2 separate regions of the Homo sapiens genome follow, and region 2 is linked to region 1. Evidence: fine-mapped expression QTL. Tissue or cell type: whole blood. Region 1 holds a variant in brackets; the other region holds the start of a gene. All regions are shown on one strand. Distances are between the middles of the regions.

Region 1 (2,762 bases):
AGGAGGAAAAGCTCAAGAGCTCTATTGTACAACATGTTGACTACAGTTAATAACAATGTGGTAATACTTGAAATTTTTGAGACAGCAGATTTTAAATGTTCTCACCACAAAAAAAAAAGATAAGTATCTGAGGTAACTGATATGCTAGGTAGCTTGATTTAGCCATTCTACAATGTCTGTCTGTTGCTATACATATATATACACAGATTTAGCTATTCTACAATGTGTGTGTGTGTGTGTGTATGTAAAATGTGGTATAGCATAAATACATACAATTTATCAATTAAATTTTAATTCCAAAGATTTTTTTGACTAATATATAACCCAACCACAAGTTTGAGAGTTCTAATTAGATGTCCTTTCCAACACCTGATTTTGTCAGTCTTCCTTTTACATATTCTGGTTAGTGGATAATGTTATTTCGTTTTCATTTATTTTGGTCTTCTGATTATTAAAAGGCCTGATACCACTTTCATAAATGTTTATTGAAAATGTATATAATCAGGCTGGGCACGGTGGCTCATGCTTGTAATCCCAGTACTTTGGGAGGCCGAGGTGGGCGGATCTCTTGAGGTCCGGAGTTCGAGACCAGCCTGGCTAACATGATGAAACCCCGTCTCTATTAAAAATACAAAAAAAAATTAGCTCGCCATGGTGGCAGGCGCCTGTAATCCCAGCTACTCGGGAGGTTGAGGTGGGAGAATTGCTGGAAACCGGGAGGCAGATGTTGCAGTGAGCCAAGAACGTGCCACTGCACTCCAGCGCGGGGGACAAGAGCGAAACTCGCATGGTGGTGCGTACGCCTGTAATCCCAGCTACCCAGGAGGCTGAGGCAGGAGAATCGCTTGAACCCGGTAGGCAGGTTGCAGTGAGCCGAGATTGCGCCATTGCACTCCAGCCTGTGCTTCAAGAGCGAAACTCCGTCTCAAAAAAACAACAAAAAAAGAAAATGTATATAATCATATTTTCAGGGGTCTATGCAATTTTTTATACTTTTTCCAATGTGGTTATCAATCTTTCTAAATGATCTTCGAGAAGTTTTTAAAAATAAATTCTTGACATAAATTTTTGGGATTTTGTCAGTTAAAGGTGGAAATATCTTCTCTTTAAGAAAGAGCTTGGCTGGGCGTGGTGGCTCACGCCTGTAATCCCAGCATTTTGGGAGGCCGAGGCGGGCTGATCACGAGGTCAGATCGAGACCATCGTGGCAAACACGGTGAAACTCCATCTCTACTAAAAACTACAAAAAAAAATTAGCCGGGCATGGTGGCGGGCGCCTGTAGACCCAGCTACAGGCTGAGACAGGAGGCAGGAGAGGAGGCTGAGACAGGAGAATGACGTGAGCCCGGGAGGCGGAGCTTGCAGTGAGCGGAGATCGCACTCCAGCCTGGGCGACAGAGCCAGACTCAGTCTCAAAAAAAAAAAAAAAAAGAAAGAAAGAAAGAAAAGGAAAAAACAAAGAGCTTATTAGGCCGGGCACGGTGGCTCACGCCTATAATCCTAGCACTTTGGGAGGCCGAGGCCGGCGGATCACGAGGGCAGGAGATTGAGACCATCCTGGCTAACATGGTGAAACTCTGTCTCTGCTAAAAATACAAAAAATCAGCCGGGCGTGGTGGC[A/G]GGCGCCTGTAATCGCAGCTACTAGGGAGGCTGGGGCAGGAGAATCGCTTGAACCCAGGAGTTGGAGGTTGCACTGAGCCGAGATGGTGCCACTGCACTCCAGCCTGGACTACAGAGCAAGACTCCGTCTCAAAAAAAAAAAAATAAATAAAATAAAATAAAAAGAGCTTATTAATGGATAATCATTGGAGATGTTAAGTTTTAGGTAAGATAGAAAAAAGGGTCTTTTAACATAGTTGTATTATATATATTTTTGCCTTGTATTTTCATGTTACAGAATGGGTCTAACTTTGGGTCAATATATGTGTTCACTTAATTTTTTTCTAAATTTGGAAGTAACCTGAAATTTACACAAAGACTGCAATAGAATTACAAAGGATAGCCAGGTTCCTCTTAGACTGACACACAGTTAACGTTTAATCCTGCTTGTTTTATCATTTGCTCTTTCTATACACAAATTTTTCTTGAATCATTTCAATTTCATACATTACTCTTCTTTACCTCTAAATACTTCAATATGCATTTCTCAATAATGAGGATATTATTAATACTTTACACAACCATGATACAGTTATCAACTGCAGTAAATTTAACATCAATACATTACTTTTATCTATTCTGTTGCTTGTATTCCAGTTTTGAAAAATTGAACCAATAATGTCTTTAGGAGATTTTCTCTCACACAAGACCTAGTCAAAGATCCTGTATTGTATTTGGTTGTCATGATGCTTTAGTCTCTTTTAATTTGGAAGTTATTCAGCTTTTCCTTGTCTTATGTGACATTAATATTTTTGAAGAATGCAGTCCTTTTAATAGTCCTCATTTTGGAGTTTGTCAAATATTTCCTCATGATTAGATTCCCATTATGCATTCCCAGCCAGAATAGTACACACATTATGCTGTGTCCTTCTCATGGTATCACATCTGAGGCACAGAATGGCCATGTGCTGCTTACTCATATTAATTTTGATCATGTAATCAAAGTTTTTGCCAGTTCTTCCACTATATAATTATTTTTTGCCTTGCAATTGCTAATCATAACAAGCAATCTCTGGAAAAGATACTTCAATTCTATGCAAATATCCTGTTCCTCATCAAAATTTCCCCTTAGATTTAGCATCCATTGATTCTTGCTTGAATCA
Region 2 (2,621 bases), 28 kb after region 1:
ACCCCACCTCAAAGTAATAAGCATTAGTTGAGCCTGGGGTACAATCCAGAAATCTAACAACCACCCCAGGGGGAATTCTGGTGTAGGAGGTCACAGCACAACCTTCATGAAACTGGTCAGGTAGAATGGAAGTCAGTCATTAACTACTACGCCTGTTTTCTCCTATGTAAAACAAAACATTTTTGACAACCAAAGAGGTGAATTCTTGCCATAGAAGTTAACATTTCACTCACATTTTGGGGGTAGCTTTGAAGGGTCCACTGTGTGCCCAGCTGCCATGGAAAGGGCGGTGCTCCCATACCAAGCCCTTCAGTCTCACTTAAAAAGCCCATCCATCCCCAAGACAATGGAGACAGCCAGCCAAGAGCCACCTCCCCTGAGCCAACCGTTTTCCCTTCAGGAGCAGGAATTTCGTCCTTCCACGCTACAAGTTCAACACGTCCGCAATTCTCACCTCCTTTCTCAGGCATTTCAGCCAAATCTGTCTCCATGATCACCACCTCCTCCTTGTTCTGGAGATTCTGCTCTTCACCCCAATTCAGATCTCCCTGGCCAGACGAGTTAGAAGCCCCCCGGGCCTCGTGGTCCCACTTCCTGCCTTCCCTCCTGGGCTCTGATGAAAGGCCTGGGTTAGATCGGGTCTCTTTCTCACCGTGGAGTCTGCCTCAGTCCTACGGCGCTGGAGCCTGGAAGCCCGGGGACAGCATCCCTGAGGCTGGGTCCTCAGATGTCTGTCCCTACCGCTTGAAGCTGTCCCTGGGGGAACCGGGCACCTGGAAGAGGTGACGCTGGGGCATCAGGAGTTTGGACAAATTCTGCCGCGCTCGGGGCACTGGCCCAGAACCCCGCGACCACCCCGCCCGTGGCACAACCGCGTCCCCCGAGGAGAGGATCAGGCCAGAGTGAGAAGGGACAGGGCTCATGGTCTGCCCTCGAGGCCCCTTTAACAAACGCGCACTCTAGCCCCGACTCGGCACAGAACGACCCGGGGAACCACCGCCGAGGCCGAGCCGAGACGAGCGACATCACCACAAGCAACTCACCTCCCATCCCGGGCCTCACAAAGGGGACGAACTTCTTTGGCCAGCTCGGAGTCGCGCATGCGTAAGAAGGAGCGGAGCCAGGCGTGCTGCCCTCATCCCGCCCGGAACTACAATTCCCAGAAGCGCCTTGGCATCGCCAGACTCCGGTTCTCCGCAGGTGGGAGCACCCGTGGTGCGGCTGGGAGAATCGGACGATCGAAGAGCTCCGTCCGTCTCGCGAGAGTATGAGGCAGCATCTCCTGTGTCTAATCCTCAGAGCAAGGGAGGGAGGGAGCAGCGGAGACGCGGACCGGAGTCAGGGTCCGTCCCCGCGCTTTGTCTGCACAAGTTCCTGCGGCACAGTGCTTAGGGCTGCTGAGTTCAACCCAAATTACTCCGGTGTAAGATACGTTAAAATACATAGCTTTTATCCATATTTTGTGCGCCCAGAACTCATCCTTTTGCTTTCAAAACATACGAAGGATGTTTTTAGGAAGAGCAGGTCCCTCTTTGTACACTCAGTCAGATGTTCCTGTATCCACAGACTACTTGTAATCCTAAAATTCATGTATTTAAAATGAGTTGAAAAGATTGAACCTGTTGTAACAAATTTAAGCAATAGGTTCTTTGCAGACATAAGCATTAGTTTAAACATATCATAAAAGGTGGTTCTTTCAAGGGAGAGTTATTCAGTCTCTCCAATTCTGTTAGAGGACTAACCCATCCACCTCCAGCTTCGTGTCTAGACTGCCCTCCTTTTCTCAGTGAATGACATTACTGCCCACTCACTCATTTGCACAAACCAGAGCCTGAATATTCTTAACTCTTTGATCTCACCATCTATTTATCACCAAGTCCTATTCATTGTATCTTAAATAACTCAATTGTTTCCATCTTTCTCTATTCTCAGTAGCATTACCTTAGTTGGGGCCACCACCATTTCACTAGGATTGCCGTTGCAGCCTGGTAACTGGATTCCCTAACTAAGGTTTTCTCTACCACCAATCTGTTCTCCACACTTTCTGGCTAGTGCTCTTTCTAAAACAAGAATATGCTATTACTTTAGTGCTTCAAACCGTTCAGTGGCTTTTAGAAACTTCAAGGAAAGATGATTTCCAGCTCCCAGAAGGGATTTGTAACTCCCATTATCTCAGCCACCTGGTAGTTACACCTTTGTGCAATCCCCTCTTGTGTATGGACTGGGACTTGCTTCTAACCAATACAGTGCAATAAAGGTGACATAAAAGTCTAACGTGTGTCTTGCTAGGAGACTCCTCTCTTGCTGGCTTTGATGAAGTGGTGGTGATGTTGGGGAGGCCCATATGACAAGGAACTGAGGATGGCCTCCAGCCAATAGCCTGCAAGAACCGAAGGCCCTTGGTCCCACAACCTGCAAGGAGCTGAACCCTTTGGACAGCTCTGTGTGCTTGGAAGTGAATCATTGTTTGTAGAGTCTTCCCATGAGAACCCTGTCTTGCCTGACATCTTGATAGCTGGCTGCAAAGGACTCACTTAAGCTGTGCTCAGACTCTCACCCATAGAAACTATGAGATAATAAACATGTGCTATTTTGGACCACTGAGTATGTGGTCATATTGT

Evidence for each region. PIP is the estimated chance that this variant, and not a neighbour inherited with it, causes the effect.
Region 2: ZNF286A starts here. The variant in region 1 is fine-mapped to the expression of ZNF286A in whole blood (TOPMed, PIP above 0.99). The same link has a PIP of 0.9 or more in hypothalamus, sigmoid colon and tibial nerve.

Annotation. Positions count from the first base shown.
Region 1 is chr17:15,726,146-15,728,907 of GRCh38, reverse strand. The region is part of intron 6 of ZNF286A-TBC1D26 (ZNF286A-TBC1D26 readthrough (NMD candidate)); the gene reads right to left. Among named protein-coding and RNA genes, the nearest start is that of TBC1D26, 4.8 kb to the left of the region's middle. The variant A/G (reference allele first, on the strand shown) is at 1,621.
Region 2 is chr17:15,698,200-15,700,820 of GRCh38, reverse strand. ZNF286A (zinc finger protein 286A) reads right to left here and starts at 1,069. Exons shown (of 6, transcript NM_001130842.2): 1 at 1,044-1,069; 2 at 455-686. The coding sequence starts at 491. It overlaps ZNF286A-TBC1D26 (ZNF286A-TBC1D26 readthrough (NMD candidate)), which reads right to left and starts at 1,069. Exons shown (of 23, transcript NR_171000.1): 1 at 1,044-1,069; 2 at 455-773. RefSeq lists enhancers at 946-1,265, 1,276-1,325, 761-1,372.